2 separate regions of the Homo sapiens genome follow, and region 2 is linked to region 1. The links come from fine-mapping of genetic effects on gene expression. A gene starts in region 1. The other region holds a variant in brackets. All regions are shown on one strand. Distances are from middle to middle.

Evidence for each region.
Region 2: its variant is fine-mapped to the expression of APOE in ovary (GTEx, PIP above 0.99). The same link has a PIP of 0.9 or more in esophagus muscle, lung, prostate, testis and tibial nerve.

Annotation. Positions count from the first base shown.
Region 1 is chr19:44,903,222-44,908,430 of GRCh38, forward strand. It overlaps APOE (apolipoprotein E), which reads left to right and starts at 2,575. Exons shown (of 4, transcript NM_000041.4): 1 at 2,575-2,620; 2 at 3,381-3,446; 3 at 4,539-4,731. The coding sequence starts at 3,404. TOMM40 (translocase of outer mitochondrial membrane 40) reads left to right here. Exons shown (of 9, transcript NM_001128917.2): 9 at 1-468. RefSeq lists enhancers at 1,892-2,694, 3,497-4,299.
Region 2 is chr19:44,933,263-44,938,774 of GRCh38, forward strand. No RefSeq gene overlaps it. Among named protein-coding and RNA genes, the nearest start is that of APOC4, 6.2 kb to the right of the region's middle. The variant C/G (reference allele first, on the strand shown) is at 2,644.

The sequences.
Region 1 (5,209 bases):
CTCCCCCTGCCACAGAGGGGAGACCTGAGCCCCCCTCCCTTCCCTCCCCCCTTGGGGGTCGGGGGGGACATTGGAAAGGAGGGACCCCGCCACCCCAGCAGCTGAGGAGGGGATTCTGGAACTGAATGGCGCTTCGGGATTCTGAGTAGCAGGGGCAGCATGCCCAGTGGGCCTGGGGTCCCGGGAGGGATTCCGGAATTGAGGGGCACGCAGGATTCTGAGCACCAGGGGCAGAGGCGGCCAGACAACCTCAGGGAGGAGTGTCCTGGCGTCCCCATCCTCCAAAGGGCCTGGGCCCGCCCCGAGGGGGCAGCGAGAGGAGCTTCCCCATCCCCGGTCAGTCCACCCTGCCCCGTCCACTTTCCCATCTCCTCGGTATAAATCATGTTTATAAGTTATGGAAGAACCGGGACATTTTACAGAAAAAAAACAAAAAACAACAAAAAATATACGTGGGAAAAAAAACGATGGGAGGCCTCCGTTTTCTCAAGTGTGTCTGGCCTGTTTTGAGCATTTCATCCGGAGTCTGGCCGCCCTGACCTTCCCCCAGCCGCCTGCAGGGGGCGCCAGAGGGCCGGAGCACGGAAAGCAGCGGATCCTTGATGCTGCCTTAAGTCCGGCTCAGAGGGGCGCAGCGTGGCCTGGGGTCGCTATCTTCCCATCCGGAACATCTGCCCTGCTGGGGGACACTACGGGCCTTCCCTTGCCTGAGGGTAGGGTCTCAAGGTCACTTGCCCCCAGCTTGACCTGGCCGGAGTGGCTATAGAGGACTTTGTCCCTGCAGACTGCAGCAGCAGAGATGACACTGTCTCTGAGTGCAGAGATGGGGGCAGGGAGCTGGGAGAGGGTTCAAGCTACTGGAACAGCTTCAGAACAACTAGGGTACTAGGAACTGCTGTGTCAGGGAGAAGGGGCTCAAGGACTCGCAGGCCTGGGAGGAGGGGCCTAGGCCAGCCATGGGAGTTGGGTCACCTGTGTCTGAGGACTTGGTGCTGTCTGGATTTTGCCAACCTAGGGCTGGGGTCAGCTGATGCCCACCACGACTCCCGAGCCTCCAGGAACTGAAACCCTGTCTGCCCCCAGGGTCTGGGGAAGGAGGCTGCTGAGTAGAACCAACCCCAGGTTACCAACCCCACCTCAGCCACCCCTTGCCAGCCAAAGCAAACAGGCCCGGCCCGGCACTGGGGGTTCCTTCTCGAACCAGGAGTTCAGCCTCCCCTGACCCGCAGAATCTTCTGATCCCACCCGCTCCAGGAGCCAGGAATGAGTCCCAGTCTCTCCCAGTTCTCACTGTGTGGTTTTGCCATTCGTCTTGCTGCTGAACCACGGGTTTCTCCTCTGAAACATCTGGGATTTATAACAGGGCTTAGGAAAGTGACAGCGTCTGAGCGTTCACTGTGGCCTGTCCATTGCTAGCCCTAACATAGGACCGCTGTGTGCCAGGGCTGTCCTCCATGCTCAATACACGTTAGCTTGTCACCAAACATACCCGTGCCGCTGCTTTCCCAGTCTGATGAGCAAAGGAACTTGATGCTCAGAGAGGACAAGTCATTTGCCCAAGGTCACACAGCTGGCAACTGGCAGAGCCAGGATTCACGCCCTGGCAATTTGACTCCAGAATCCTAACCTTAACCCAGAAGCACGGCTTCAAGCCCCTGGAAACCACAATACCTGTGGCAGCCAGGGGGAGGTGCTGGAATCTCATTTCACATGTGGGGAGGGGGCTCCCCTGTGCTCAAGGTCACAACCAAAGAGGAAGCTGTGATTAAAACCCAGGTCCCATTTGCAAAGCCTCGACTTTTAGCAGGTGCATCATACTGTTCCCACCCCTCCCATCCCACTTCTGTCCAGCCGCCTAGCCCCACTTTCTTTTTTTTCTTTTTTTGAGACAGTCTCCCTCTTGCTGAGGCTGGAGTGCAGTGGCGAGATCTCGGCTCACTGTAACCTCCGCCTCCCGGGTTCAAGCGATTCTCCTGCCTCAGCCTCCCAAGTAGCTAGGATTACAGGCGCCCGCCACCACGCCTGGCTAACTTTTGTATTTTTAGTAGAGATGGGGTTTCACCATGTTGGCCAGGCTGGTCTCAAACTCCTGACCTTAAGTGATTCGCCCACTGTGGCCTCCCAAAGTGCTGGGATTACAGGCGTGAGCTACCGCCCCCAGCCCCTCCCATCCCACTTCTGTCCAGCCCCCTAGCCCTACTTTCTTTCTGGGATCCAGGAGTCCAGATCCCCAGCCCCCTCTCCAGATTACATTCATCCAGGCACAGGAAAGGACAGGGTCAGGAAAGGAGGACTCTGGGCGGCAGCCTCCACATTCCCCTTCCACGCTTGGCCCCCAGAATGGAGGAGGGTGTCTGTATTACTGGGCGAGGTGTCCTCCCTTCCTGGGGACTGTGGGGGGTGGTCAAAAGACCTCTATGCCCCACCTCCTTCCTCCCTCTGCCCTGCTGTGCCTGGGGCAGGGGGAGAACAGCCCACCTCGTGACTGGGGGCTGGCCCAGCCCGCCCTATCCCTGGGGGAGGGGGCGGGACAGGGGGAGCCCTATAATTGGACAAGTCTGGGATCCTTGAGTCCTACTCAGCCCCAGCGGAGGTGAAGGACGTCCTTCCCCAGGAGCCGGTGAGAAGCGCAGTCGGGGGCACGGGGATGAGCTCAGGGGCCTCTAGAAAGAGCTGGGACCCTGGGAACCCCTGGCCTCCAGGTAGTCTCAGGAGAGCTACTCGGGGTCGGGCTTGGGGAGAGGAGGAGCGGGGGTGAGGCAAGCAGCAGGGGACTGGACCTGGGAAGGGCTGGGCAGCAGAGACGACCCGACCCGCTAGAAGGTGGGGTGGGGAGAGCAGCTGGACTGGGATGTAAGCCATAGCAGGACTCCACGAGTTGTCACTATCATTTATCGAGCACCTACTGGGTGTCCCCAGTGTCCTCAGATCTCCATAACTGGGGAGCCAGGGGCAGCGACACGGTAGCTAGCCGTCGATTGGAGAACTTTAAAATGAGGACTGAATTAGCTCATAAATGGAACACGGCGCTTAACTGTGAGGTTGGAGCTTAGAATGTGAAGGGAGAATGAGGAATGCGAGACTGGGACTGAGATGGAACCGGCGGTGGGGAGGGGGTGGGGGGATGGAATTTGAACCCCGGGAGAGGAAGATGGAATTTTCTATGGAGGCCGACCTGGGGATGGGGAGATAAGAGAAGACCAGGAGGGAGTTAAATAGGGAATGGGTTGGGGGCGGCTTGGTAAATGTGCTGGGATTAGGCTGTTGCAGATAATGCAACAAGGCTTGGAAGGCTAACCTGGGGTGAGGCCGGGTTGGGGCCGGGCTGGGGGTGGGAGGAGTCCTCACTGGCGGTTGATTGACAGTTTCTCCTTCCCCAGACTGGCCAATCACAGGCAGGAAGATGAAGGTTCTGTGGGCTGCGTTGCTGGTCACATTCCTGGCAGGTATGGGGGCGGGGCTTGCTCGGTTCCCCCCGCTCCTCCCCCTCTCATCCTCACCTCAACCTCCTGGCCCCATTCAGGCAGACCCTGGGCCCCCTCTTCTGAGGCTTCTGTGCTGCTTCCTGGCTCTGAACAGCGATTTGACGCTCTCTGGGCCTCGGTTTCCCCCATCCTTGAGATAGGAGTTAGAAGTTGTTTTGTTGTTGTTGTTTGTTGTTGTTGTTTTGTTTTTTTGAGATGAAGTCTCGCTCTGTCGCCCAGGCTGGAGTGCAGTGGCGGGATCTCGGCTCACTGCAAGCTCCGCCTCCCAGGTCCACGCCATTCTCCTGCCTCAGCCTCCCAAGTAGCTGGGACTACAGGCACATGCCACCACACCCGACTAACTTTTTTGTATTTTCAGTAGAGACGGGGTTTCACCATGTTGGCCAGGCTGGTCTGGAACTCCTGACCTCAGGTGATCTGCCCGTTTCGATCTCCCAAAGTGCTGGGATTACAGGCGTGAGCCACCGCACCTGGCTGGGAGTTAGAGGTTTCTAATGCATTGCAGGCAGATAGTGAATACCAGACACGGGGCAGCTGTGATCTTTATTCTCCATCACCCCCACACAGCCCTGCCTGGGGCACACAAGGACACTCAATACATGCTTTTCCGCTGGGCGCGGTGGCTCACCCCTGTAATCCCAGCACTTTGGGAGGCCAAGGTGGGAGGATCACTTGAGCCCAGGAGTTCAACACCAGCCTGGGCAACATAGTGAGACCCTGTCTCTACTAAAAATACAAAAATTAGCCAGGCATGGTGCCACACACCTGTGCTCTCAGCTACTCAGGAGGCTGAGGCAGGAGGATCGCTTGAGCCCAGAAGGTCAAGGTTGCAGTGAACCATGTTCAGGCCGCTGCACTCCAGCCTGGGTGACAGAGCAAGACCCTGTTTATAAATACATAATGCTTTCCAAGTGATTAAACCGACTCCCCCCTCACCCTGCCCACCATGGCTCCAAAGAAGCATTTGTGGAGCACCTTCTGTGTGCCCCTAGGTACTAGATGCCTGGACGGGGTCAGAAGGACCCTGACCCACCTTGAACTTGTTCCACACAGGATGCCAGGCCAAGGTGGAGCAAGCGGTGGAGACAGAGCCGGAGCCCGAGCTGCGCCAGCAGACCGAGTGGCAGAGCGGCCAGCGCTGGGAACTGGCACTGGGTCGCTTTTGGGATTACCTGCGCTGGGTGCAGACACTGTCTGAGCAGGTGCAGGAGGAGCTGCTCAGCTCCCAGGTCACCCAGGAACTGAGGTGAGTGTCCCCATCCTGGCCCTTGACCCTCCTGGTGGGCGGCTATACCTCCCCAGGTCCAGGTTTCATTCTGCCCCTGTCGCTAAGTCTTGGGGGGCCTGGGTCTCTGCTGGTTCTAGCTTCCTCTTCCCATTTCTGACTCCTGGCTTTAGCTCTCTGGAATTCTCTCTCTCAGCTTTGTCTCTCTCTCTTCCCTTCTGACTCAGTCTCTCACACTCGTCCTGGCTCTGTCTCTGTCCTTCCCTAGCTCTTTTATATAGAGACAGAGAGATGGGGTCTCACTGTGTTGCCCAGGCTGGTCTTGAACTTCTGGGCTCAAGCGATCCTCCCGCCTCGGCCTCCCAAAGTGCTGGGATTAGAGGCATGAGCCACCTTGCCCGGCCTCCTAGCTCCTTCTTCGTCTCTGCCTCTGCCCTCTGCATCTGCTCTCTGCATCTGTCTCTGTCTCCTTCTCTCGGCCTCTGCCCCGTTCCTTCTC
Region 2 (5,512 bases), 30 kb after region 1:
GAGACCATCCTGGCCAACATGGTGAAACCCCGTATCTACTAAAAATACAAAAAAAATCAGCCAGGCATGGTGGCGGGTGCCTGTAAACCCAGCTACTCAAGAGGCTGAGGCAGGAGAATCACTGGAACCCAGGAGGCGGAGGCTGCACTGAGCAGAGATCGTGCCGTTGCACTCCAGCCTGGGCGACAAGAACAAAACTCCATCTCAAAAAATAAAAAAAGGAACTCCTGAAGCCAGGCTCGGTGGCTCCCACCTGTAATCCCAGCACTTTGGGATGCCAAGGCAGGAGGATCACTCGAGGCCAGGAGTTGGAGACTATCCTGTCCAACATGGTGAAACCCTATCTCTACTAAAAATGCAAACATTAGCCAGGCATGGTGGCGTGTGCCTGTAATCCCAGCTACTTGGGAGGCTGAGGCGTGAGAATAGCTTGAACCAGGAGGTAGAGACTGCAGTGAGCTGAGATCATGCCACTGCACTCCAGCCTGGGCGTCAGAGCAAGACTCCATCTCAAAACATAAAAGGAAATCCTGGGCCGAGCGCAGTGACTCACGCCTGTAATCCCAGCACTTTGGGAGGCCGAGGCAGGTGGATCACAAGGTCAGGAGATCGAGACCATCCTGGCTAACATGGTGAAACACTGTCTCTACTAAAAATACAAAAAATTAGCTGGGCATGGTGGCGGGCGCCTATAGTCCCAGCTATTCGGGAGGCTGAGGCAGGAGAATGGCGTGAACCCGGGAGGCAGAGCTTGCAGTGAGCCAATATTGCGCCATGCATTCCAGCCTGGATGACAGAGTGAGACTGTGTCTCAGGAGAAAAAAAAAAAAAAAAAAGGAAATCCTGAACCTGGGCATAGTGTCTTATGCCTGTAATCCCAGCACTTTGGAAGGCTGAGATGGGAGGATCAGTTGAGGTCAGGAGTTCAAGACCAGCCTGGGTAACATGGTGAGACACCGTCTCTACCAAAAAAAGAAGAAAGAAAGAGAATAAATAAATTATAAATATTACTCTCTGGGGTTAATGCATTCCCTTCTCCCCCAAAATCAACCCTCCAAACTCCTATACTCTCCTTTCTTCTCACTCAGCAGCCTGTTAGAACTCAAGTCAGATTTTTTGTTTTTTTGTTTTTTGAGGCGGAGTCTCACTCTGTTGCCCAGGCTGGAGTACAGTGGCACCATCTCAGTCCACTGCAACCTCTGCCTCCCAGGTTCAAGCGATTCTCCTGCTCAGCCTCCCAATTAGCTGGGACTACAGGTGTGTGTGTGTCACCACACCCAGCTAATTTTTGTATTTGTAGTAGAGACGGGGTTTCACCATGTTGCCCAGGCTGGTCTCAAACTGCCCAGCTCTAGCGATCTACCCTCCTCGGCCTCCCAAAGTGCTGGGGTTACAGGCATGAGCCACCGTGCCCAGCCTCAAGTCAGATTATGCTCTTCCTCTGCTCAGAACTCTCCTGATTCTCTCAGAGCAAACCCAGAAGAACTTACCAAAGGCCTACAAACAGGACACTACCCGGTTCACGATCGCCTCATCCCTCTCTCTCCATCACTCACAAGCAACTCCTTGCTATTCCTCCAATGTACTGGGCAGGTTCCCACCTCAGGGCCCTTGCAGTTACTGTTCCTCTTGCCTGGAATGTTCTTCCCCAGGGGTCCAGATATCTGCCTGGCTCCCTCCTCACTTCCTCCAGTTCTCTTCCAAAATCATCCCCTGCCAGACATAGTGGCACACTCCTGTAATCCTAACCTTTGAGAGGCCAAGATGGGAGGATTGCTTCAGCTCAGAGGTTCAAGACCAGCCTGGGCAACATAGCAAGACCCCATCCCTCCTAAAAAAAATTAGCTGGGCATGGTGGTGCACACTTGTGGTTCCAGCCACTTGGGAGGCTGAGGTAGGAGGATGGCTTTGAATCAGGGAGGTTGAGGCTGCAGTGAGCCATGTTCCAAATTAGATAGTGGTGATTGTGCAACCTTGCCAATATAGGAAAAACCATTGAACTGTACACTTTAAAAGGGTAAATTTAGCAGGACGCGGTGGCTCACGCCTGTAATCCCAGCACTTTGGGAGTCCGAGGCGGGCAGATCACTTGAGCTCAAGAGTTCGAAACCAACCTGACCAACATGGTGAAACTCCATCTTTACGAAAAATTAAAAAATTAGCCAGGCGTGGTGGCAAGTGCCTGTAGTCTCAGCTACTTGGGACGCTGAGGCGGGAGAATTTCTTGAACCTGCGGGGCAGAGGCTACAGTGAGCTGAGATTGCCCCACTGCACTCCAGCCTGGGCAACAGAGTGAGACTCCATCTCAAAAAAAAAAAAAAAAAAAAAGAAAAAGAAAAAAGGGTAAATTTTATGGAATGTGAATTATAACTCAATTTTTCAACATGCATTAGGAGGGACATTTCAAACCCTTTTTTACCCCAGCCTTCCCTGCAATCACCCAGAGTATCCAGCCAGGAGGGGAGTGGCTAGAGACACCAGAAGATTAGCAGGGAGGAGGGTGCAGGGTTTCGGGGGATGAGGGGATGGGATTCAGACCAGGGTAAGGATCCAGGGGTAGAGAGAAAGATTTGAGAGTGGTTTTGGGGCTTGGTGACTTAGAGAACAGAGTTGCAGGCTCTGTTTTTGGGCCCGCCCTGCCCC[C/G]TTCCGACCTCTTAGTTCCTATCCTCCAGCAGCTGTTTGTGTGCTGCCTCTGAAGTCCACCCTGAATGACCTTCAGCCTGTTCCCGTCCCTGATATGGGCAAACATTGCAAGCAGCAAACAGCAAACACATAGCCCTCCCTGCGTGCTGACCTTGGAGCTGCGGCAGAGGTCAGAGACCTCTCAGGGCCCATACCACTTCCAACATCCCCTTGATCTCTTGGATTTTGGTGGAGAGGGGCAGAGGTTGTCCTGGCCTGGTTAGGTAGTGTGAGAGGGTCCCGGTTCAAAACCACCACTTGCTGGTTGAGGAGTCGTCAGTAAGTGGCTGCGCCCCCACCCTGAGGCTTGTTTCTCCATCTGTACAATGGAAATGATGAAGATGCCCACCTGATAGGGTTTTTGTGGCAAATAAGTAAGTAGTTTTTTTGTTTTTCTTTTTCTTTTTTTTTTTTTTTTTTTGAGATGGAGTCTCACTCTGTCACCAGGCTGGAGCGCAGTGGCGTGATCTCGGCTCACTGCCAACTCCACCTCCCGGGTTCAAGCGATTCTCCTGCCTCAGCCTCTGAGTAGCTAGGACTACAGGCGCCCGCCACCACACCCAGCTAATTTTTGCATTTTTAGTAGAGATGGGGTTTCACCATGTTGGCCAGGATGGTCTCAATCTCTTGACCTTGTGATCCACCTGCCTCGGCCTCCCAAAGTGCTGGGATTACAGGCATGAGCCACCACGCCCAGCTCCCCCACCTTTTTTTTTTTTTGAGATGGAAAGCTCTGTCACCCAGGCTAGAGTGCATTGAGCCATCTTGGCTCTCTGCAACTTCTGCCTCCCGGGTTCAAGCAATTCTCCTGCCTCAGGCTCCCAAGTAGCTGGGATTACAGGCGCCCACAACCATGCCTGGCTAATTTTTGTATTTTTAGTGGAGACAGAGTTTCACTATATTGGCCAGGCTGATCTCGAACTCCTGACCTCAAGTGATCTGCCTGTGTCAGCCTCCCAAAGTGCTGTGATTACAGGCATGAGCCACCATGCCCCACCGCAATTAAGTAAAGTAATCATCTAAAAGCCCTGCCATGGTTCCTGCCACACAGTGTGTGCTGGGGAAGCGCGCACGAATTAAACAGTAGCTGGCGTTGACGGGGCACCTATGCGGCATTTTCTGTGCACGATCTTTACTCTCCCTGGCAACCCTATGAGGTAGATAGTCCATGACTCCCATTCATGGATGAAGAAACAGGCCCACACAGGTAAAGCAACTTGTACCAGGTCATACCGCTAGAAAGATGTAGAGTCAGCCACGCGCGGTGGCTCATGCCTATAATCCCAGCACTTTCGGAGGCTGAGGCGGGATGATCACTTGAGGTCAGGGGTTCGTAACCAGCCTGGCCAACATGGTGAAACCCCGTCTCTACTAAAAATACAAAAATTAGCTGGGCGTGGTGGCGGACGCCTGTAATCCCAGCTACTCAGGAGGCTGAGGCAGAAGAATTGCTTGAACCCGGGAGACAGAGGTTGCAGTGAGCTGAGATCACGTCACTGCACTCCAGCCTGGGTGACTGAGCAAGACTCCATCTCAAAAAGAAAAAAAAACAGGCCAGGAGCAGTGGCTTACACCTGTAATCCCAGCACTTTGGGAGGCCAAGGCGTGTGGATTGCCTGAGGTCAGGAGTTCAAGACCAGCCTGGCCAACGTGGTGAAACCCTGTCTATACTAAAAATGCAAAAATTAGCTGGGTGTGGTGGCAGGCGCCTGTAGTCCCAGCTACTCGGGAGGCTCAGGTAGGAGAATTGCTTGAACCCAGGAGATGGAGGTTGCAGTGAGCCGAGATCGCGCCACTGCACTCCAACATGGGCAATAGAGCAAGACTCCATCTCAAAAAACAAAGAAGGGAGGGAGGGAAGGAAAGAAAGGAAAAGAAGCAACAGGTAGAGTCAGGCTCTGAACCCCACACCAATCATAACACAACACACAGTAGGTTTGTTTTTGTTTTTTATTTTGGGCTTTTGTTTGTTGTGGAGACAGCGTCACCCAGGCTGTAATGCAATGGTACAATCATAGCTCACTGTAGCCCTGAACTCCTAGACTCAAACAATCCTCCCACCTCGGCCTCCTGAGTAGCTGGGACTACAGGGGCATGCCACCACGCCTAGCTAAATTTTTTTTTTTTATTTTTAGTAGAGATGAGGTCTCCCTATGTTGCCCAGATTAGTGTCTTAACTCCTGGGCTCAGGTGATCCTGCCACCAGGGATTACAGGCACGAGCCACCATGCTGGCCCTTGTTTTTTGTTGTTTTTTTTTTTTTTTTTTGAGACGGAGTCTCGCTTTGTCGCCCAGGCTGGAGTGCAGTGGCGGGATCTCGGCTCACTGCAAGCTCCGCCTCCCGGGTTCACGCCATTCTCCTGCCTCAGCCTCCCAAGTAGCTGGGACTACAGGCGCCCGCCACTATGACCGGCTAATTTTTTTGTATTTTTAGTAGAGACGGGGTTTCACCGTTTTAGCCGGGATGGTCTCGATCTCCTGACCTCGTGATCCGCCCGCCTCGGCCTCCCAAAGTGCTGGGATTACAGGCGTGAGCCACCGCGCCCGGCCTGTTTTTTTTTTTTTTTTTGAGACTGAGTCTCGCACTGTCGCCCAGGCTGGAGTGCAGTGGCGCGATCTCGGCTCACTGCAACCTCCACCTTCCAGGTTCAAGCAATTCTCCTGCCTCAGCCTCCTGAGTAGCTGAGATTACAGGTGCCCACCACGATGCCCAGCTAACTTTTTTTTTTTTTTTGGTATTTTTAGTAGAGACGGGGGTTTCACCATGTTGGTCAGGCTGGTCTCGAACTCCTGACCTCGTGATCCGCCCGCCTTGGCCTCCCAAAGTGAT